Linked DNA regions of Homo sapiens: all the other regions are linked to region 2. The links come from fine-mapping of genetic effects on plasma protein levels. A gene starts in region 2. Each other region holds a variant in brackets. All regions are shown on one strand. Distances are between the middles of the regions.

What was found. A credible set is the group of variants that fine-mapping cannot tell apart. PIP is the chance, under the fine-mapping model, that this variant and not a neighbour inherited with it causes the effect. Protein levels are from antibody-based Olink assays in UK Biobank. Linkage for the fine-mapping came from a reference panel and not from the study's own genotypes, which makes the PIPs less certain.
Region 1: its variant is the best candidate, but not a certain one, in a credible set for the plasma level of the FGFBP1 protein (UK Biobank, PIP 0.88).
Region 3: its variant is the best candidate, but not a certain one, in a credible set for the plasma level of the FGFBP1 protein (UK Biobank, PIP 0.62).

The regions. Positions count from the first base shown.
Region 1 is chr4:15,921,039-15,929,220 of GRCh38, forward strand. No RefSeq gene overlaps it. Among named protein-coding and RNA genes, the nearest start is that of FGFBP1, 14 kb to the right of the region's middle. The variant C/T (reference allele first, on the strand shown) is at 4,483.
Region 2 is chr4:15,934,513-15,942,694 of GRCh38, forward strand. FGFBP1 (fibroblast growth factor binding protein 1) reads right to left here and starts at 4,228. Exons shown (of 3, transcript NM_005130.5): 1 at 4,175-4,228; 2 at 3,739-3,959; 3 at 1,065-2,140. The coding sequence starts at 2,120. The coding sequence ends at 1,416.
Region 3 is chr4:15,945,499-15,953,680 of GRCh38, forward strand. No RefSeq gene overlaps it. Among named protein-coding and RNA genes, the nearest start is that of FGFBP1, 11 kb to the left of the region's middle. The variant G/A (reference allele first, on the strand shown) is at 3,488.

The DNA.
Region 1 (8,182 bases), 13 kb before region 2:
TAACTCCATCCCCTGCCCCAGATAAAAAGCAAGATAGCACAACTATAGCAACCTTTTAAGTCAAATTAAATGAGCTAATAAAAATCAGGCCTGTTCAAGTGCCCAATTGATTTAAACATGAAGATTGTCAGTTTCCAGCATCACTGATTCTAATCCAACAACCCTCACCATAGAGGTCTTCATTCAGCCTGCTGTGTTTGGAGGTTTTGCTTATTGGGTGTGTATCTGTAAGGTAAATCTTGACGATTTCCTTACTACAGACAATTATCTGGCTGGAGATGTCATGTTTTAGACCTTGGCCATCTTGTGCAAGTTACAGAAGTTTTGCCAAAGACACTTTGCTTCTATCCGGGTTTATATCCCTGACCATCCACTCAACCATCACTTATCCATTCACTCAGCAAGTATGAATCACTTATCCATTCACTCAGCAAGTATGAATCACTTATCCATTCACTCAGCAAGTATGCCATGGCTGTGTGCCAGGCAACACTCTCAGCACAGCATATATGGAGCTCCCTGACTAGTAGAGGGATGTAGAGGATGGACAAGTGATCAGGCAATAAGAGCACAGAGAGAGCCTGGATCTGTGCCCTCTTGGCCCCTCCAGGTCTGGGCTTCATTAACAATCTCCCCTCTTCTGCAGCATCCTCAGCTTCTCCCTCTCTACCTTCCCCTAATACCATAAAACTCATCCACTGGCCTGGCGGTCCCTCCTAGGTATCATCCTACTTTTCTCCTTCCTCATCCAGACTTCTAAACAGAGTAATCTACATCCTCAATGCCTACCTTACCTTCACTTCACACCTCAACCCCCAGTAATCCATCCACCAAGAGAGTCCCCACAGCAATCCATCCACCAAGAGAGTCATAACTGCTCTTTCTAAAGTCACCTACAACCTCCTAAGTTCTGTGAACCCCCAAAATTTGACACAGGTCTCAGTTAATTTAGAAAGTTCATTTTGGCAACTTTGAGGATGCATACCCATGTCACAGCCTCAGAAAGTCCTGATGACGTGAACCCAAGGTGGTCAGGGCACAGCTTGGTTTTATACATTTTAGGGAGATTTGAGACATCAATCAGTATATGTAAGAAGTACATTGGTTCTGTCCAGAAAGGCGGGGACAACTCAAAGCAGGGAGGGGGCTTCCAGGTCACAGGTAGGTGACAGACAAATGGTTGCCTTCTTTTGGGTTTCTGATAAGCCTTTCCAAAGGAGGCCATCAGAATATGCATCTATCTCAATGAGCAGAGGGATGAGTTTGAATAGAACGGGAGGCAGGTTTGACTGGAGCAGTTTCCAGCTTGAATTTTCCTTTTAGCTTAGTGTTTTTGGGAGCCCAAGATATTTTCCTTTCACAGTCCTAAGAAGCAGATACTCTTTGTCTCTTATTTACCACCATATTTAATGCTACTGATCACTCCAGCCTCTGCTCCCAGGAAGCTTCTTTCTTCTTGTCTTCTCAGATCTTTCATTCCTTGTCTATAGCTTTGTAGATTCTTCTTCCTTTCACTTCTCAGTGCTGGTGCTCCCCAAACAACCCGCCCACTTTTCTAGATGCTCCTTCTCCCTGGGACATCTCATTTACTCTCAGGGTTTTAACTAGAATTTACCTACTGGTAGCTTTATTTATTTATTTTTGAGACAGAGGTTCACTCTTGTCACCCAAGCTGGAGTGCAATGGTGCAATCTTGGCTTACTGCAACCTCTGCCTCCCAGGTTCAAGCGATTCTACTGCCTCAGCCTCCTGAGTAGCTGGGATTACAGGCATGTGCCACTTCGCCCAGCTAATGTTTGTATTTTTAGTAGAGACGGGGTTTCATCATGTTGGCCAGGCTAGTCTGGAACTCCTGACCTCAGGTGATCCGCCTGCCTCAGCCTCCTAAAGTGCTGGGATTACAGGAGTGAGCCACTGCGCCCGGCCTACTGGTGCCTTTAATATCCAAATCTCCAGACAGAGAACACTCAATATTTGAACTCAAATTGAATGCCTGCTAGACATTTACACTTGGATGTTCTATAAGCAACTTAAACCCAACTTGTCCCAAACAAAACTCATCAGTCACCATTCTTTAAACCTGTTTTTTTGCTACTTTTGTATTTTTATTTTAGTTTTTAAATTTTATTTTTATTTTTATTTATTTATCTTGAGACAAGCTCTGGCTCTGATGCCCAGGCTCTGGAGTGCAGTGACATGATCTTGACTGACTGCAACCTCTGCCTCCCGGGCTCAAGCCATCCTTCCACCTCAGCTTTGCAAGTAGCTGGGACTACTGGCATGTGCCACCAACCCTGGCTAATTTCTGTGTGTGTGTGTGTGTGTGTGTATATATATTTTGTTTGTTTGTTTGTTTGTTTGTTTGTTTGTTTTTGTAGAGACATGGTTTCACCAAGTTGCCCAGGCTGGTCTCAAACTTGTGAGCTGAAGAGATCTGCCTGCCTTGGCTTTCCAAAGTGCTGGAATTACAGGCATAAGCCACCACGCTCGGCCCTGTATTTTTATTTTTAATCTCAGTTATTGGCACTAAAATTCAGTTGATTATCCAAATATGAAGCCTGGCTTTTGTCTTCACTATGACCTCTCAATTTTTCAAAAAAATCAAAGTTGAATCTAATTTGTGTCCTTTCTGTTACTTCCTTTTCAGCTCCTTCTCATCTCTCACCTGGGTAAGTTCTATCTCCTTCCACCTTATGCCCTTTTCAGCCTTACCATCTCCCACCTTGGCCCTTATTTCCGTGGTTCAGTTGGTCTCCCAGGCTCATCCCTCATGGCCCACAGCTCTGTCTACTGAATTGCTGCCAGAGAGGTCTTTATTAAAATCCATATCTGACCATGTTGCCTCCATACCTAAAACCCCTCAATGGAGCCTGGACACGGATAGGATAAAATATCAACTCCTTAACCACGTGTGCTGGGTATCCTCCACCTGCCTTTCTGGACTCACTCACCACCTTTCTCGTCCTTCTCCGACCTGGAAGGCTGACCTCCACCTACTGCCTCAGCTGAGCCTTCTTCCTTCTGGATGGGTTTGGCCATTGGGAGGCATGAGAAAGATGTCAGAATGCAGGAGAGAAAAATAGCTGGGATATTTACTCTCTTGCCTCCATTTCAACCCAGCTGCAGGCTTCTCTACCAGAAGCTCCAGCTCCAGTGGTGTGTGGTGGTGGTAGCAGGAGGGGGTCCCTAGTGTTAAAGCCACAGCCACCGTTCTTTCTTGAGTTCTGGTCTCCCTCTTTGCCTCTTTTAGCCTACGGGAGGTGGTGGCTCTTGGACTTGCAGTTGCTAGCCCAGGTGTCTCGTAACCCATTGTTGGTTTCCCTTAACTCTGCCCGCATCCTTGCTAACAGGCCCCCCATTAATACTCCTCAGCCACTCTGTATGTTGTGCCTGCTACCTGCTAAGACTCTCATCTTTGTGCTCCCCCATTCTATCCTCAGGCATTGCATCCCAGCAGCACCGCACTGCTTCTGCTTGGTTTCTCCACAGGAGCCTTGCTTTTCCTCACCTCCAAGCCTTTGCCCAGGCTAGCCCTCTGCCTACAGCACCCTTCCCATTCCTCCTTACATGGTCTAATGACCCTCTGAAGCGTCATCTCTTAAAAGGCTTCTGTCTGTCCCAGGCTAGGTGTAGGTCTCTGCCCACTTTCATTGCATCTGACACATTCCTGTTAAATCATTCCCTTCTCTTAGCACTTAGGAGCACAAAATTTAATGATAGGTTGCCTGTGTTCAAACTCTGGTCCTGCCTCAGTTTTCCCCTCTAAAAAGGAAAAATCCCTACCTCATAGGATCATGGTAGTTCATAAATGAAACCATGTGCGCTGAGTACGTAACACAGTGCTGGACATATAGAAACACTTGGCAACTGTGAGCTTTCAGTCTCTGAAACACACTAGCTTTTTAATCTTTATTTATTTAGCATAGATTTCGCTTAGAAATCATCCCAGCTAACTCATTCATGTTTTTTAGCCAGTACCTATGAGTGAGTACATCCATTGCTTCCAGTCTTTGGTACTGTAAATAATAAAATAAAAGCTAAAAAAAAAAAAACAGAAGAAAAACAATGTCATCATGAACATCTTTACACACACATCTTTGTGATGTGCAAATATATGTAGCATAAATCTCTGGAAATGACTGTGATTTTATTTTTAAAATTTAATTAATAATTAATTTAAATTATTTATTTATTTTTTGAGACAGGGTCTTGTGCTGCCACCCAGGCTGGAGTGCAGTGGCAGCACAATCATAACTTACTCTGCAGCTTCTAACTCCTGGGCTCAAGCAATCCTCTTGCCTCACCCTCCTGAGTAGATGGGACTACAGGTGTGTGCCACCATGCCTGGCTAATTTTTTGTACTTTTTGTAGAGATGAGGTTTCACCATGTTTCCCAGGATAGTCTTAAACTCCTGGGCTCAGAACAATCCACCCGCCTCAGCTTCCCAAAGTGCTGAGATTACAGGCATGAGCCACCACTCC[C/T]GGCCTGGATTGTGATTTTAAACTCAGAGAGCTATTGACAGATTCTTCTGAAAATGGGTTGTCCTCATTTGCATTCTCCCCACTAGTGTGGCTTCTCTCTCTGTAGTCTACACTCATGCCTTCCCTCATGACTTAAAGAATATTTTCGTCCAGAAAAGATCGTATTCATTAAACAAGCTAAACTAAAGCAGCAATGCTCAGAGTGCCCGTCACTGCCTTGCGGACTCTCAGATCCATCGCCCCACACTCCCCACTGGTCTATATGGGGTTGAGGTGAGGCTGTGGATGCAGACTCATTTCCCAGGCTCCCCTGCTCATTGCTTCTGATGAGATGTGGCCAGTAGGAGCAGAGGAAGGGAAGAAGCCAAGACATTGCTTCTCTCTGTTTCTGGTGGCATTTTCAGCAGTCACTGTGACTCCAGTGTCCCTGAAGTGGTTGCTCTCTCCAGGGTTCCATTGCAGCTGCAGGCTTGCCAAAGTTTCCTGGCTCCAGCTGGGTGCCCTGGCCCCCGGGCTTTGGCAACCCCGCCTCCACCATTTGTCATTCCAGCCATGGGGCTTCCCGTGGGAAGCTTCTGGCTGTTGGATTGCTCCATTGTGCCCAGGTTGCCCTTTTAGCTTTTCCAATATCTTTGTAACTGGTTTTCCATTTTATTTTTATTTAATTAATTTATTTATTTGAGATGGAGTTCCACTCTTGTCCCCCAGGCTGGAGTGCAATGGTATGGTCTCGGCCCACTTAAACTCCACCTCTCGGGTTTAAGAGATTCTCCAGCCTCAGCTTCCCGAGTAGCTAGGATTACAGGTGCCCGCCACCACGCCCAGCTAATGTTTGTATTTTTAGTAGAGACGGGGTTTCACCATGTTGGCCAGGCTGATCTGGAAAACCTGACCTCAGGTGATCCACCCACCTTGGCCTCCCAAAGCTGGGATTACAGGGGTGAGCCACCACACCCAGCCTGGTTTCCCATTTTTAATCACCTCTGTTGAACTATCTATTTCAGTTTTGTCTCATTCCCTCACCTCTTCTTAACTGGACACTGACCCGGGGTTGACAAGACCGAGGAGAAATGGCCACATTCTTATACTGTTGGTGGGAATGGAAATTGTTGCAGAATTTTTTGGCAGGCAGTTTGGCAGTCCATACCAAAAGTTTTAAACATGTGTACTCTTGCCTTATCTTTGAGAGATACGTGTTAAATACTCATGAATGAAATGACATGCTGTCTGGAATTTGTTTCAAAACAATCCAGGGAGTGGGGATAAGTAGGATCTCGCATAGATGCAACAAGATGGGCCACGAGCTGACAGTTGTTTGAGCTGGATGACGGATACGTTGGCACTCATTACTCTGGTCCTCTTTACTTATAAATGTTTGACTTCTTCAATAATAAAAACTATTTTCTGGCCAGGTACAGTATCTGATGCCTGTAATCCCAGCTCTTTGGGAGGCCTAGGCGGTAGGGTTGCTTGAGGCCAGGAGTTTGAGACCACCCTGGGCAACACAGTGAGACCCCATCTCTACAAAAAATAAAAAAAATTAACCAGATGTGGTGGTGCAGGCCTGTAGTCCTAGCTACTCAGGAGGCTGAGGCAGGAGGATCACCTGAGCCCAGGAGTTAGAAGCTGCAGTGAGCTATGATAGTGCCACAGCTGCACTCCAGGCTGGGTGACAGAGTGAGACCCTGTCTCAAAAAAAAAAAAAATTCCCAAAACCCCCTGATTTCCAAAAGCAAAATCTTGGACCTTGGAGAATGATTTAAAAAAACAAATTCTCTTCAAGGATGGGTTTTAACGGCGTTGTTTATAATAACAAACAATTGACAACATTCTGATTTTCCAGCAGTGGGATGGTCCTGTCATAACTTACAATATATCCACACACAAAACACGATTCCGACTTGAAAAGATGTTGCAGCATTCGTGATTTTTTTTTTGGATTTGTGATATTTTAAGTGAAAGAAAAGATATCAGCCTGTGATATTACCATCCAATTAAAAGATTTGTGTATGTGTCTAAGGAGGATTTGTGCCCAAGCGCGAAGGGTGGTGCCTTCGAATGGGCGGGCCTGTGCTCTTTCTTCCTTTGACTTGTTTGTGCTCTCTGGTTGGTTTGTTGTTATGTACAATCATTACTTTCAAATTCTAAAAAAAAAAAAATGAATACATTCTTTCTTCCTTCCTCCCTTCCTTCTTTCAATGTCTCTTTTTTTTTTTTTTTTGAGACGGAGTCTTGCTCTATTGTCCAGGCTGGAGTGCAGTGGTGTGATCTTGGCTCACTGCAACCTCCACCTCCCCAGTTCAAGTGATTCTCCTCCTTCAGCCTCGCGAGTAGCTGGGACTACAGGCGCCCACCACCACGCCCAGCTAACTTTTTGTATTTTTAGTAGAGATGGGGTTTCACTGTGTTAGCCAAGATGGTCTCCATCTCCTGACCTCGTGATCCACCCGGCTCTGCCTCTGAAAGTGCTGGGATTACAGGTGTGAGCCACCGTGCCTGGCCTCAATGTCTCTTTTCAAAGGGGCAGGGCCCTGGTTGACGATGTGCATGTATTGGGGTAGGGAAGCCAGTGGGTCCCACCTTGGCTTCTTTTTAGTAAATGTCAGTTGTCTGCTCAACTTTTCCAGGCAAGGCTTAGGAAAAAAATGGGCATAGGCTAGGGACAGAGGGAGGGAAGAGAAAAAGGAGTACTAAAGAAGATGGGGTGGCCACAACATCTTCCACACAACAAAGTGGCTAAACACAGATGCCACAATCAAGAGTGTGGGTGAGGGTGTGCAGTTGACAGTGGGAGGTGCTGCCTGGCATGGCCCCTTCCCATGCCCCCAGCCATCCTGGCCTTGTTCCCTCTTGCATGTTTATGTCTATTGTACTACGTGGTCCTCCCTCCTGGACGCTGCCTCTGTTTTGCCTTTGCATTTGACTACTGACACCTGCCCCTCAGCATGTCAATCTCTCTCTCTCTTTTTTTTTTTTTTTGAGACAGAGTCTCACTCTGTTGCCCAGGCTGGAGTGCAGTGGTGCGATCTCAGCTCACTGCAACTTCCACCTCCCAGGTCTAAGTGATTCTCCTGCCTCAGCCTCCTGAGTAGCTGGGATTACAGGCACCCACCACCACGCCTGACTAATTTTTTTTATATTTTTAGTAGAGACAGGGTTTCACTATGTTGGACAGGCTGGTCTCAAACTCCTGACCTGTGGTTATCTGCCCGCCTCAACCTTCCAAAGTGCTGGGATTACAGGCGTGAGCCACTGTGCCTGGCCCAGGATGTCAATGTCTCTTGATGATCCTTTTCAATATCTGCTTTTCCACCTGCTGACCCATTTTTGGCAACGTGGTCTAATAATAAGGATAAATAACCGAGCACTGGGCTATGTCCCAGAAATGTTGTCAGGAGCTTCATAAACACCATCTCACCGAATCCTCCCTGCACTCTGCCGTGGTGATAACATTCCCCCAAAGCACAGACAAGAAGGCTAAGACAATCAGAGAAATGAAATGACTGTCTGAGGCCTCCCCAGACAGTGGGAGGCAGAATGAATTTGAAACCCAGGGCTCTGCTCATTCCACTGCCTGGGGCTGCCTCCCCGGCAGACTCCTCTGCTCCAGTATGAGTGCTTGAGAGCACAGCTGCCCGGGGAGGTTCCAGGCTCTGCTCTTACTAACTCTGTGACCCTGGAAAGTGACAAAACTCCTTAC
Region 2 (8,182 bases):
ATAAGTGCTCTTTTTATTGATGATCATGATGACATCCAAATGTCACTCTGAGGCTGTGGCACTGTGGATTGGCCTCTGACGTCCTCAGTGTGCATCCCAGTAGGTTGGTGAATGTAAAAGGCTTTCCTTCCCCCCCACCTGCCATTCCTCCCTGCCACCATCAGACATGCTAAAGAACAGTGCTTTCGTCAGCTTCTGCTCCTCCTTTCCCTGGTTGTGGAATTGTGACAAGGCATTGGAGACAGTTCATCCTCTCTCCCCCACTCTTAAAATACAACTTTCAGATCCTTCATACTAACATATAAATGAATAATGGCAGTCTCATCGCTGCATCCCATCCGATCCCAGACACCTGACCTCTCCCAGAATCTGAAACTTCCCATCTATTCACTTTCATTCATGTTATCAAATGCCTAAAGTGCCTCCACTTTGCCCCATTTTATTCCCACAGATACTCTTTCCAAAATCCAGCTCCACTATTCCCTCCCCTGTTACACTCAAGCCCAGATCTTACAGCAGTTTCTGCCTTCTCTCTCTGGTTTTCCTTGTAGCCCTCTCCCCCTTCCTTTATAGCCCTTATCTTGGGCCACTGTACTTAACTAGGCCTTTCTTCTCCAAGAATGAAGAATGAAGGAATGAAACTCATTTCTTCTCCAGAATTGAGCTTTGCAAGGCCGGGGTCTTTCGGGTGGGGGAGGGAATGGGCAGCTCTGACATGAATCAGTAGCGGAGGTTCCTCAACCCTGTAGACTCAGCTGTCAGAGCTCCTGGGTTCCAATCCTACCGGCCCTCTTACCATCTATGAGTCCCTGACAAATGATTTAATCACATTATATACCAGGTGTCCCACCTGAAAACAGGGATCCTAGTTATTATACTTCAATAAACACCAAACACCACTGACCAATGGATACAATTATAAAGAAGGATTCCAGAAAGAGATAACTTGCGAAGGGTGGGGAACTGGAAGTTCCTGTTTAGATTGTTTTTCCATTGATATATGGGGACTACTTAATGAGTTTATTTGGGACCAGACACAGAGAAAACCAAGCAATGTTTGAATGTATTTCTGAAAAACACCCAGAGTTTTATTACCATTAATTCAGCAGAAAGTTCGTTGCACTGAAATTATCACTCTGGCTCATTCAGCTCAAAGACTCTTCGCTGCTCAAACACATAGCTGTGTGGGCCATGGAAATACATGCTGCAGGAAACAGCCTCTGAACATCGCATCCAAGAAAAATAAGGCAAATTCCAAAACACAAAAGCAAAAAATACAAAACTTGTTTAAATATTTCGTTGCACTCACTAAGCACAAAAGTTCATATTTTGGGGGGACTGTAGAGAGCTTTAAAGTATACAGAGGGACTTACGACATGACATCTCTTAAGGGAACCCGTTCTCTTTTGACCTCATTAGCATGACGTGTCCTGCACTATGCTGAGGAAGAATGTGCAGAGAGAGCTCCAAGTCTCTCCACAGAACTCCAGGGCAGTCTTCCTCTGGTTTGCCATATCTGGGTCCTCCACACACTCGGGAGCTTTGGTGGCCATGGTCTGGGTCACTGCTAGGCTAGAGGGGGTGGTCTCTTTGCCTTTGATGTGCTCCCTGGGGGACATCTCTGTTTTCTCCTTCCTGGGCTTTGTGTTCCCAAATAGAGTGGAGCTGACTAGCTTAAGACTGGATTCTGGAAAATCCTTTCTGCACACTCTGGTTTTCACAGCTGTCTTGGAATATCTACAGATGTCTTTCTGTGAGCGCAGATTCCGGGCAACTTGTTTCCAATAGACTCTCTCATCCTTGAGCTTTAGGCATGAGGTTGGATTGCCAGCAAAGACACAGGAAAATTCATGGTCCAATTGAGTGCACTCAACCTTGAGAGAGATGCCCTCCTCCTGCTCAGTAGCAGCCCATCTGCAGTTGGCTTGGTCTTTGGTGACAAACTTGCCTTTGTTCCCGGGCCTGCTTTTCTGCTTAATCTGGGTGTTGCCCAGAGTGTCCTTTTGTTCTGAGACCACTTTGCTGTGAAGTCCATTCTTCACTTTTTTTTTCCCCTCCACCAGGAGCACCTGAGCAGCCAGTAGGAGGAAGGAGAGCAGGGTGAGGCTACAGATCTTCATGGCTGCAGCTGGGCGTTCACCTGTTTGACAAAAGGCAAGTGAGTCAGTGGCAGGCAGCAGTTCAGCTGTGCAGGACTACACGCTGGCCTCCCCCTACCCTGACAGGTGCCTACATGATTTCAGAGTAGACCAAGAACGCTTCTGGCTCCTGGAGTCACTAGACAAACAGCCTGTCTACTCACATTTCCACTTGACTTGAGTCTTGAGTGTCACAAAAGTACCACTCTTTGGAGCCTCACGAACTCTCATTTATCATTTATTCACTCATTAACTCCTGCATCTGCTCACTCCTCACTCTTTCATTCACTCATTCAACAAGCATTTACTGAGCACCTACTATATGCCCCCCACCAGACTAGGTGTTGAAGAAATCACCATGATTGAGAAAGCCTCAGATTTGAAAGAGCTTAGAGACCACTCTTTGGGAGAATTTAAATAGCATTGATCAGGGAATCTATCCCGTCATCTCTGTTTCTGATATGAAACAAGTTACTGCTCCAAACTTTCAGCTCCAAAGGGCTGGATTTCTATCTCATGACTCCATATGGACACAGATGCCCAAAATGAGAAAAGACATGACAGATGCCCAAAATGAGAAAGGATGTGGTAAGCATCATGAAAGGTGATGTTGACCCAGAGTTGAACATGCCTGGGGTTTGGGTGGGGTGGGTGGGGTTGTGGGGGTGGGGGAGCTTTTTGTGGGGAAGTAAGAGTTTAAGGAAAGGTGTGAGGTGGGGTGGTTGTCTGATTTGCCTGGGCAAAGTGAATCAGGGTGGAGAGAGGTGAATTTCAACCAGATAGTTCACACTACAAGATCGAAGACAAGGATCATGAGAAATCATTGAATCAATAGGATGAACACCAACGTCACACTGAACTGCATGAATCTGATCATGTGTACAATAAAAACCCATGCTTAACAGAAGAAGAGAAGTCAGTTTCTATATGACACCTCCTGTGTGCTAAGTACTGGTCTAGGGTTTGATTCCCACCTTGTGAAATCCACACAAGAGCTCTTCCAGGTAGCTATTAATATGTCATCCCAGGTGACAGCTCTGACTCTTAAGGCTCAGACAGGTAAGTAAATTGCTCAGGATCTCATAGTGGGCAAGTTCAAAGCTGGTATGGGTAGCCAGATCAATCTCCTTATTCCTTTCTGTCACCCCTGGTTGATCACTTTTTGCTTTTCACATTTACTCTGCCCTTTAAAAACATTGCCAAAGAATAAGAAAAACAACTATGAACAATGACAATTTAGTTTCATATAACACATAATGATAAGATGATTTGTATTATTTGTGCTCCATTTAAAACAAAACACAGAATTTTTTATAAAAAGAGGCAGACCCAGGAAATGGTCCTGATCTGATTTCTACCCTAGAAGTTGGCCATCTTCTAGGGTTAAGAAGGAGAAAGACAATCACAAAAGGGCAGAGAACAGCAATAAATGGTGAAGAGGAGACTGGATATGCCAGAAAAACACCCAGTCATTTCTCACGGCCCTGGGGCTCAGCCCCCACCTGCCCATGATGGAATGCAGGCCCAAGGAACTCCAGGCCCTTGGTGGAGTGAGAAGTGGCAGCAGGTAATAAAGCTGTTAAAGGAGCGAGGCTCTTACCTTGTTCTGAGCACACGGATCCAGTGCAATCCCAGGCAGTGCGAGTGAATTGCAGGCTGCAGCTGTGTCAGGTAGAGTGCAAGGGGGGTAGACTATTCAACAGGAGCCAGGCTGACTGGGTTTTTATAACACTCACTGGGTTTTTACAACACTGTGGCACGTTACTCACAGCTCCTCCCAGCCACGCCCCTCCGAGGGAGCCGGTTCCTGCAGGGAAAGTGCTGGATGTAATCCAGTGAAAAGGGGGGTTACCTGCATGCCATCAAACGCTTCCTCTAGGCCCTTCCCTGTCCACCCTGTGGCCAGGATAGGAGGACAACTCAGCCTCACAGTGACCCTCCTTGATGGGGAGAGGACCCCAGCAGTGATGTCTATGGAGGAGTAAAATAACTATAATGACATGATCCGAGCTGCCAAACTACTGAGCCCATTTTACCTGAGTTCTCCTTTTCCCTCATCACATCCGCTCTAGTAGGGAGTGCAATGATTCCTCCCCTTTTACAAAAGCAGGAATTGGTTCTGGAGATATGTAAGAGCTTGTCCAAGTTCACAGAGGCAGGAAAAGGAACATCTCAAAATTAAAAGTGAGATTCTCTACATCCATGGTCTGATCTCTTCCTGCCTGCCACTCTCAATAAATCTTTGTTGAATGGGTGACTGAAGTTGCCGAAGTTTTCGTAGTGTCTGAGTTCCTTTTTCCATCTGAAGTTACTACATAAGCAGAGGATACCCTAATTCTAGAGGCAGGGAAATTTACATTAAAAATTCCCTCTTTTTTATCAGGGAATTCTACCAGGCTCTGAGAGGCTGGTAAAGAGGGAATTTTTAATATAAGATTACTGTTGTAAATACTTACCTTCAGGTCTCATTCAGAGAGCTCAGGCTGCCCTGCCTGCTACAGGCACAGTCCCACACCAGAATGACCCAGGTGGAATCCTGGCCACAGCATGTGTTTAGCTGAGTGCTATGCCCAAACCACTTAGCCTCTCCCATCATCCATTTGCAGTGTGCTGACAATAACAACGTCTCCTTTATAGCTGCATACTAAATTTTTACTGGGCTAAGCTGTTAACATAAAGTGGAGCAGAATCGTTTTGCCTCATGACAGGGTCTTAAGTTGTATACTTTGAAAACAGACATTTGTTATTTACATATGCAGCATTTAAAAAGAAACTCACTTCTACAGGGAAGATGTGGCCCTCATTATATATTATCACCTCACCTTTCATAGATTTTCAGAAGAAGAAATTGTTCACTTTTCCTTAATTCAGCCATAAGAAAACTATTGTTTAGTGTGATATTAAATGGCAACTGACTTTTGGGTTTGAGATAAGGCAATAGGGAGTGATGGGGACTGTGGCAAACTAGAGAGTCTCTGCCTCCATAGAGGTCAACACTCATCTCCAATTGACTGAGAAAATGCAGGGATTAGGCTCAGTATTGTCACACTGTCTGATTTTTAAAATGACATCCCCAAATCCAGATGTGTTTATATGAAATTGGTTGGCAGCTAATTAAAATTTTCTAAAAATAAAGCTGTAGCTCAACACTATGCAGGCCAAAACTTGTAACTGTGTTTGGATTTTATGAACGATCCACCTGTTTGAGAATTCCGTGGTCATAGCTATAGATGTTGACCAATTTACTCAGAGGCTCAGTCTCTGCATGAATCTGTTGGAAGAAGCCATTTCTGAAGCTGTGTGCCTCTCTCCTAAAATTGCCTCACCCAGGGGTCCGTCCTCACTATCCTCACAAACACCCCGCTGAGGCCCTGACCTCCACGAACAGGCTCTCTCATGCGGTATTTTGGAGGATTATTTGGACATAGGCAAGGCAAAGCTGCTTTGCTCAACAAGGGGAGTCTCCTACAAAATGGAAAATTCTACTTGATCCTTGGGAGGCAGGCAGATTCTTTCTGGAGGCAGATTGCAGTTGGAACACAAAACATATTTACAAGGAAACATGTGGACTCCGGGGTCTTTCTGGGAAGTGCTTCTCTGAGCTTTGCCAGGTAACACTGCACATTCCCCACTGGCTCCTTGTGGCCCTTCCCCTTCCTGTGACTCCCATCCCAGCGTCTGCTTTGCTCTTTCCCTTCTAGACTCAGCAGCACAGCATCAGAGCAGGCTGTGGGGCAGTCACCTCCTTGGCTCATCCTGCCCTTCCAACCTCATTTCCAGGTACTCACACGCAGACACATAAATACACATACACACTGACACACATACAAAGACACACACAAACACACACTGACACACTCAAACACACACAAACACACTCAAAGACACCACACTCATAGACACACAGAGACACACACATACTGACACCTAGACACATTCACACACATACTCATAGGCACACACACACAGAATCACACACAGTGACACTGACACACACACAGAGACAGACACACACACACATGCACACACACACTGCAATCTGGCCACACTGAAACCCTGTCCCACCATTTGCAGATACTCCATGCATGCGCCCACTTCCTGCCTTTGCCTCTGCTGTTCCCTGCACTTGGGATCCCCTTCCCTTCCTTCTCTGCCTGGCACACACCGCCTCATCCTTCAAGGCCAGGCTCCAATGCGAGCCCCTCTCTGTTGGTGTCATTGGCTCCTGACGCCCTGCATGCCACCCACATCTTTAAGAATGTCCACGGGGAGAAATGGCACACTTCCTCCAATGAGCTTACAGCGTGCCAGGCACTGTGCTAAGGCTGTTTCCCAAGCTTTCTTCGTATCTCCATGAACTAAGGAAACGATGTCCTTTTCCAGTGGCTCTGGGGAGACTGCAGAGGACATGGAGCCCCAGCCACGCAGTGCATAGCAGGTTCCAGTAACTTCAGGCCCCTCCACCTCCCCATGCTCCCAGCACTGAGGGGCTCTGTAATTCTTGGGGATGAGTACATAAAGGCCCATTGCACAAGAACCCCAGGAGGAAAGTCGGCCCAGGTCCTCATGGGACAGATGTGGAGGCAAGGCTTAGGGGGACTAAGCACAGTGTCTGACACACAATTAGAGAAGAATTATCTGGAGGCCGCTGCTATCATTCTAAACACAAATGAGGCAGTGTACGCATACACTGATAAATTGTGGAATTCTCCTCTCTTTGCCCCTTCATACCTTCCCTTTAAATTTTTTTTTAAAGTTTTAGAATAATTTTAGGTTTACAGAGAATTGCAAAGATAGTTATCATTCCAATTCTCACCTGGGTTCCCTATTTACCTGTTACATTACTATGGTACGTTTGTCACAACTGACAAACATTGATACATTATTGTCAATTGAAGTCCATACTTTATTCAGACTTGCTTAGGATTTACCTGTTGTTCTAGTTTTTATTATTATTATTATTATTATTGACAGACTTTATTTTTTAGAGTAGTTTTATGCTCATAGCACAATTGAGTGGAAAGTATCAAAAGTCCCATATACCCCTCCCCACACGCAGGCACAGTCTCCCCTACCTTCAACATCATGAACCAGGGTAGTACATTTGCTGTAAGTAATAAACCTACATTAACATGTCATTATCACCCAATGTCCATCATTTCCATTAGGTTCACTCTAAGTGCTGTACATTCTTTGGGTTTTGAGAAATGTATAATGACATGCATAATATCAATTAACTAAGAAAGGTATAATGACGGTACCCACCACTATGGTATCATACAGAATAGTTTAGCTGCCCTAAAAATTCTCTGTGTTCTGCCTACTTACCACTCCATCCCCTACAACCCCAGGCAATGCTCATCCTTTTGCTGTCTCCTCAGTTTTATCTTTTTAAGAATTTCAAATAGTTGGAATCACACAATATGTAACCTTTTATATTGACTTTTTTACCTAGTAATATGCACTTAAGGTTTCTCTATGTTTTTCATAACTTGATAGCACATTTCTCTTAAGTGCTGATAAAATTCCAAAGATTGGATATATCCAAGTCCCTTTATTCATTCACCTACTACTAAAATTCCATTGATTGGATGTACCCGAGTTCATTTGTTCATTCATCTAGGACATTTTGGATGCCTCTAAATTTTGACAGTGATGAATAGAGCTGCTATAAACATGCATGTGCAGGTTTGGTGTAGAATTAAATTTTCAGCTCCTAATGTTCTTTTTCTGTCCAGGATCCCAACATGACACCAGGTTGCATTTAGTGATCGTGACTTTTTGGGTTCTTCTTGGCTATGGCTGTTTCTCAGATGTTGCTTGTTTTTGATGACTATGGCAGTTTGCAGAAGAATTGGTTAGGTGTTTTGAGAATGTCCTTAATTTGGAAATTGTCTGGCATGTTCTGGTTAGATTGGGATCATGTTATTCTTCTCATGATCACACAAAACTTAAATGATGAATACTTTCTTTGGGATTGTGAAAGGAAGTCTGAACACAATTGGTAAAAACACACTGGCTAAGGCTGGTAATTGAATGCATGT
Region 3 (8,182 bases), 11 kb after region 2:
CATCCTAAAAGCACGCATGAAGCACCTACTATGTCCAGGCCCTCAGTGTTAATGATTGCCTGGAAGTGCAGTCAAGAAAAATGGTCCTTACCCTTGAGGAGTTAGCAGACAATAGGGGAAACGTCAAGGATATCAGTCATGACCACACAGAGGTTAATGACTATGTTGGAGGGAAAGCTGTGGTGCTTTGAGTTGGGACATCTAGCCTACCAGAGGCAGACAAGAATTTCTCAAGAGCCTGCAATTATGCAAACACAGCTCAACAGTGGGGGAAAGGGGATGTTATCTCTTCAGTCATTATTCAGTAACCACTCTCAGCAAGGTGAAGTATCAGGCACTCAAGGGAAGATAAGATGAACATGGTTTGGCTCTTTTTCCTAGACCTGACCAGGTGAGTCTATGGCTCACACTTTGATGATTGCTGTAGTGGTGATACCTCATCACTCCGACATTTTGACATCAAATTAAGAGGTGATGTTGTCTGGGGTGGTGTTATTTTTGTGATAAACTTCTGAGTAAGGGCCATGTCCATTTGGAAGGCCATATCTTTCCCAACTAAGTACCCAGTGGAGTTGATGTGAGTCTTACCATTGGCCATGTTTGGTTAAAGCAATGGCTTATTAGGAGGGTGTGAGCCATTGGATCATAAATTAATGAAAGAACCCAGACTGACTTCTTAGTACATTTTCTGTTGCTATAACTGAATACTTGAGACCAAGTAATTATAAAGAAAAGGAGTTTATTCGACTCACTGTTCTGGATGGTGGGAAGTTTAAGATTGGGCAGCTGCATCTGGGAAGGGCTTCATGCTGCAACATAGCATGGTGGATAGCATCAAGTGGTGAGAATGCCTGTGAGAGCAGTGAACAGGCATGTGCAAAGGAAACCAAACACAAATGGGACCTAGCCTTATAACAACCCACTCTTGTGTTAACTAATCTACTCTCATGAGAGTGAGAAGTCATTCCCACAAGACAACATTAATCTTTTAATGAAGACAGATCCCTCCTGACCCAAATGCCTGTAATGCCTCTCAACATCATTACATTGGGGACCATGCCTCTATATGAGCTTTGTTGGGAAGGCACAGACCAAGAGTAATAAAATCAAAAGTCAACAGAATGGTGTGCAGGATGACACCAGGTAGCTTCAATTATGATAGAAGAAATCAGTCTCATATCTGCCTAGCCCTTGGGACAATTTATGGTAATTGATCCCTGTAGAGTTTGGGCCCTACATTTGGCCTCCTCCCCTTACGTGATGGAGGCAAGATGGAATTTTTATAAAGACACCTTAAGTCCTGGGCAAAAAAGAAACTCATTTAGGTGTTTATCTGATGGCCTGAAATTTTAAAAGAAGTTGTTTGAGGAGGCCATTTTGTATCTCAACAACACCAGTTTTCTGAGACCTATAATCTCCTGTAGCACAATGACATCTACCAGGTGACTGAGAATGAACAAAGCTACAACCCTATAGAGATAGAATATGCCCAAGGACCCAGTATTGGCTCCATCCTGTCTAAGATGCCCTCAGTAGCTGTGTGAAGCTTGTGGGTACTGTACCTATGACCCAAAACATAATGAGTATAGAGGGTCATGGGCTCAGGTCACAATAGCAGCAAGGCCAGTAACAACAAAGAGATTTGCCCATATAGCAATATTTAAGGTTTCTAGGAGTCACAGTTTTCCATGGGGAGACACCCTACACCTCGCCGCCAACCATTAGAGATGGGCCTGTCTAAATTTGGAATCAAATGGGTGAGTATCTTCATAGAGTCCCAATGCTCAGGGGCCCAACAGTCAATGTCAACCTGTGATGGACTGTTCAAGGAGGACCTCACTTGTCCAGGACTTTGTCCACCAGAGTAAGAGAAGATTTGTTACAAGAAGGGAGTTGTGCCTGGGCCTGAATGCCCAGCTCCTGAATTCTCTATGGTGAGCCCTGTCTACGGTCTTGGCAGGCAGGTCATCAGTCTCGGTGCCCTCAAAGCACCCTAGGGGCAGCCACTCCCTGCTCCTCCTCTCTCCAGAAAGCGTTTACTGTACTAATTACCCAAATTGCCTGCTTAACCTCACATCTGCCTGGTCACTTGGTCCAGTAAGGTGTGCACTGGGGACCTCTCTCACTCCCAATGGTACTACTACCTGTGCAAAGCAAGATCTGAGGTCCTTCCCTTGCCACAGTTTAGACTAGAAAACTGTGAAAGGGCACAGCAGAGGTAGCACAAGGCAATGGCAGCCAAAGCACAGGCACCCCACCGGCCGGCAATGCCCTCCCAAGTAGAGCTAATTCCTCCCTGGATTAGCTAATTCCTAAAGATAATACAGTATATGTGGTTGGCACAGTCAGCTAACGAGCCAAGAGCAGAAGGAGGCACGGTCCTTATGGAACACTGAGTCACCTTGCCGGCTGCTCAACTGTCCCAAAACGTACCTGTGGGATTTTAACTCATGAACGTGACTGAATGATGACACAAAGAGGCTGGTGCCATTGAAAAAATAATTTACTACAGTTACCTCCTCCCCACACCCCCGTATCTACAGGTTTCACATTTGTGGATTCAATCAACTGCAGATCAAAAATATTTTTTAAAAAATTTAAAAAAAACCATGAAAAATAATGCAAATAAATAATACACTATAACAATGACTTACATAGCACTTATGTTGTATTAGGTATTGTAAGTAATCTAGAGATGACTTAAAGTATACAGGAAGATGTGCATAGGTTATATGCAAATACCATGCCATTTTACAGAGGAGACTTGAGCATCTGCAAATTTGAGTACCCATGGAGGTCCTGGAACTAATCCTCCTTAAATACCCAGGCATGACTGTACTCACCTTTCCAAAGAGAAGGAGCATGCCACAGCACACAGGGCTTCAGCAGGAGAAACATGAGGTTTGGGTCAGGTGGTGAAAGCAGGAGCGAGGGAACACCTAGGCCAGAGCCCTTATCATCGTTTCCGAGGGAAAGTTGAGGCTGGATGGAGAATATGGTCTCGGATGTGCTGGTTTTAATAATTCCAGCAGGCTCTGGGGCACGTGGTGTGGCTGTCTGGTCCTGTCTCCAGGTAGATTTAGGGTAAGGGTTAATACTGGCTTGGTATGTGAGAGTTAGATAAAGGGAATGGTTGGTTTACATGTGACAGGCGTGATCCCAAACATACTGTGTCATCTTTAGGAATTAGCTAACCCAGGGAGGTCTGTCTCTCCCTGAATTTATCAGGTTCCCAAAGGTATCAAAACAGCATGAGTTGAAAAAATAAAAGCACATGATTAATACGACCACCCAGTCTCATAGATTAAGGAACATGAATGTCACCATCATGCTTGGTTTTGTATCACCTCAGCTTTTCTCCGCATTTGTACTTTGTTTTCTCGGACTAATTTTCTCTACTTCGTGGGAAACACGGGTGTCACCAGTTCCAAGCCAAGCAGAAGTGCGAACAATCCCAGGGAGAGATATGATAGGTTGGTCTTGAGTC[G/A]CATTCCTGCCATTGGATTTGTCAACCATGGCCAAAGAGCAGGATTCTATGATGAATGGCCCAGGCCTCTGAAACATGCAGCTGGGTTTGGAGGAGGAGCAACTATTCTCCCAGAAGGAGAGCGCTGTTCCCAGAAGGGAGAGAACCTATAATGTAATTGCCTGTGCTGGAAGAAAGCTACGGATAAGGTCAACAAAGAGGTTTGCGGGGGAACATTCAAGGTTTCACCTTAGGCTTCATCCAGACCAGGGGCTGTCAACCTTGCCAAGGATGAGGATCCTCTTACAACATCCACACTCTGTGCAGACCTGCCCGTCGCAGCACTCAATCACAAACTGTGACTGAGAAACAATGTGATGGTAAGAGTGACAGCAGCTACCACTTGAGCTATTACTCCTTGGAATTTGTGTGGATAATCTCATGTAATCCTTGAATCACGCTTAGGAGACAGGTACTGTTATTATTCACATTATGGAGAGGAGAAAATAAAAGATCACTCAAAACCAGACAGCTAGTGAACGATGGGCCAGAGTCCAAAACAGGTCATTGATTCAAAAAAATGTATTCACTTAACCTATGTTATCAAAAAGTGCCACACGGCCGGGTGCGGTGGCTCATGCCTGTAATCCCAACACTTTGGGAAGCCGAGGCAGGTGGATCACCTGAAGTCAGGAGTTAGAAACCAGCCTGGCAAACATAGTGAAACCCCGTCTCTACTGAAAATACAAAAATTAGCCTGGCCTGGTGGTGGGCACCTGTATTCCCAGCTACGTGGGAGGCTGAGGCAGGAGAATCGCTTGAACCCAGGAGACAGAGGTTGCACTGAGCCGAGATTGCACCACTGCACCCCAGCCTGGGCAGCAAAGTGAGACTCTATCAAAAAAAGAAAAAAGAAAACAAAAAGTGGCACAATAGTACATGGGATTGGTAATGCCTTTAAATACAGTTGCATTTTATTTACCACAATGCTATCTACGGTCATTTGAAAATGAATTGTACATTTGTTTACAATAAATATTACTAATTTTTATTTTTTCTTTTAAAATATTTTTTAGGCATGGTACGGTGGCTCATGCCTGTAATCCCTGCGCTTTGGGAGGCTGAGGCAGGGAGATCACTTGAGGCCAGGAGTTTGAGACCGGCCTGGCCAACATGGAAAAACTTTCTCTTTAATAAAAACACAAAAATTGGCTGGTAGGGATGGTGGTGAGCCCCTGTAACCCAGCTACTTGGGAGGCTGAGTCTTGAGAATCACTTAAACCTGAGAGGAAGTGATTGCAGTCAGCCAAGATCACACCACTGCACTCCAGCCTGGAAAGACTCCATCTCTAAATAAATAAATAAATAAATATTTTTTAGAGACAGGGTCTCACTCTATCACCTAGGCCAGCATGCAGTGGCACAATTATGGCTCACTGCAGCCTTGAATTCCTGGGCTCCTGTGATTCTTCCACCTCAGCCTCCCAAATAGTTAGGACTGCAGGCACACACCATCACACCCAGCTAAGTTTAAAGTTTTTTTTGTAGAGACAGGGTCTCATTTTGTTGCCCAGACTTGTCTTGAACTCCTGGACTCAGGTGATCCTCCTGCTTTGGCCTCCCAAAGCACTGAGATTATAGCCACTGTGCCTGGCAATATGTTGCTAATTTAATGGCCTCATGAATCCCTACATCTCCCCCTTCTAGCCCAATGTCCTCTATTCTCCCTACCCCAAGCCAGGCCCTGCTCTGGAGTCCTTTGGGGTCACCACTTGGAAAACTCTGAGATAACACAGGCTGCCGCTCCCGAATGACCAAGGGGAAGAAATTCCACTGGGGCACTGGAAGAGGAAAAACAGTATAGGCATCCCATAACCAGCTCATCCTGAGAACTTGTACACCATTTCAAACATGGCGGAGACAAACCCTACAGAAGGACGGTGTCATCTGAGTGTGACAAAGGGAGGGATAGAGAATTAGACTCCTGCCCATGGGGCAGGTTTGATTTAGTAACATGTTCCCCCTTCTTTCAATGTAAATGATCTGAAAACAAAAAAGGGGCCAGAAACCTGTTTCACTCTCCCTTTAAAACAATTATCTGAATAAATTCAACAACTTAATTTGTCTTAGGCTTAGAACTTACACTAACAAAATGTTGTGACAAATTTCCATATTTAGCAGTGATGTGATTTCATATTTTGCAGTGATCAGGCTGATTTAGGCTCATGTCTTTCCCAGATTTGGTTGCAAGACTCATATTTCCAGTTTTCAGAAGCATCTGTGACTCCATTGAGATAGCATGTGGCAACCTTATCCAGGAAGACCAGTCTGATGTATGAAGAGTTTTTCCTTCCTGTTTCATCAAGTTTATCTGTCTACCTGATTTATAATCATACTATGAATCTGCATAGCACAATATCATTGTCAAAGCCCTTCACTGTGTATTATTACTATATTAGATCTTTTTAAAATTATTTTATTTATTTGTTTGTTTGTTTATTTATTTTTGCAGAGACAGCATCTTGCTATTTTGCTCAGGGTGGTCCTGAACTCCTGGACTCAAGCAATCCTCCTGTGTTGGCCTCCCAAAGTCCTGGGATTACAGGCATGAGCCACTGCTCCCAGCCCCATCTGATCTCGATAGTCCTCAATAAGGAGTAGCCATTATTATCACCTGAAATAAAGATGAGGAAACTGACTTCTTTAGTGACTTCCCTCAAGTTTGTTGAAGTGTTTCATTTCAACAAGTACTCGTTTGCTAAAGTTAGGCCCAGCTCTCCCATTCTAGTAGAGAAAATACAGTATTTTTTTCTTACTCTGGTGGAAAAAGATGAAAAGTGATACCACAATCCAAAACTAAATCTGGCAGTAACTGATGCATGCTTCTAGGAAGAGTCCAGCAGAAAGCTGCACAGGGGAAATCTTGGTACCTCTTCAGTTCACAGCCTGACCTGGTTTGGCTTCAAGAAGCAGAGAGGACCACAGAAAAGGAGAGAAAGAAAGGGAACAGATACTTCCAGGGAGGTGTGAGACAAAGGGTGAGTAATTCAAAGGCTAGAGAGAGATGGTGAATATGTGCTCACATAAAACAGGTCACTCTCATTTAATAGGTCTAAAGACTTTCTCAGCTCTAATTTCTAAGGTGTCAATAGCTAATGACTTCATGGTAAGGTAAGAAAGATGTTGTTTAAGGAACAGCTACAAAACCTCCCAGCTGCCTACAGAAGGGCATTAGGCTTGATCTAGAGGCAAAATATGTCCTTTAAGAGTTCCTCTGTGCTGATTATTAACTGTAATCATTGTGGGGCACAAAAATATGTTACATATTAGTAGTTAGAAACACAACAAAGGATTTTTAGTTTTTTTTTATTTCTATAGATTTTTGGAAAACCGGTGGTATTTGGTTACATGAATAAGTTTTTTAGTGGTGATTTGTGAGATTTTGGTGCACCCATCTCACAAGCAGTATACACTGAACCCAATTTGTACTCTTTTATCCCTCACCCCCTCCCAACGCTTTCCCCCTGAGTCCCCAGAGTCCACTGTGTCATTCTTATGCCTGGTGTATTAGTTTGTTTTCATGCTGCTGATAAAGACATACCCGAGACTGGGAAGAAAAAGAGGTTTAATTGGACTTACAGTTCCACATGGCTGGGGAGGCCTCAGAATCATGACAGGAGGCAAAAGGCACTTCTTACATGGTAGCAGTAAGAGAAAATGGGGAAGAAGCAAAAGCCAAAATCCCTGATAAACCCATCACATCTCATGAAACTTATTAACTACCGTGAGAATAGCATGGGAAAGACCATCCCCCATGATTCAATTACCTTCCCCTGGGTCCCTCCCACAACACATGGGAATTCTGGGAGATACAATTCAAGTTGAGATTTCAAAGGGAACACAGCTGAATCTTATTATTCTGCCACTGCCCCCTCTAAATCTCATGTCCTTGAATTTCAAAACCAATCATGCCTTCCAAACAGTCCCCCAAAGTCTTAACTCATTTCAGCATTAACCCAAAAGTTGACAGTATGAAGTCCCATCTGAGACAAGGCAAGTCCCTTTTGCCTATGAGCCTGTAAAACCAAGCTAGTTACTTCCTAGATACAATGGGGGTATAGGTATTTGGTAGATACAGCTGTTCCAAATGGGAGAAATTGACCAAAAGAAAGGGGTTACAGGGCCCATGCAAGTCCAAAATCCAGCCAGGCAGTCAAATTTTAAAGCTCCAAAATGATCTCCTTTGACTTCAGGTCTCACATCCAGATCACACTGATACAAGAGGTAGGTTCTCATGGTCTTGGGCAGCTCTGTCCCTGTGGCTTTGTAGAGTACAGCCTCCCTCCTGGGTACTTTCATGGGCTGACGCTGAGTGTCTGCAGCTTTTCCAGGCACACAACAGTGCAAGCTGTTGGTGGATCTACCATTCTGGGGTCTGTAGGACAGTGGCCCTCTTCTCACAGCTCCACTAGGCAGTGCCCTAGTAGGGACTATGTGTGGGGGCTCCAACCCCACATTTCCCTTCTGCACTGCCCCAGCAAAAGTTCTCCAAGAAGGCCCCACTCCTACAGCAAACCTTTGCCTGGGCATCCAGGCATTTCCATACATCTTCAGAAATCTAGGTGGAGGTTCCCAAACCTCAGCTCTTGACTTCTGTGCATCTGCAGGCTCAACACTGTAGGAGATCAGTCAAAGTGGTGGGAGAAATTATAGGCA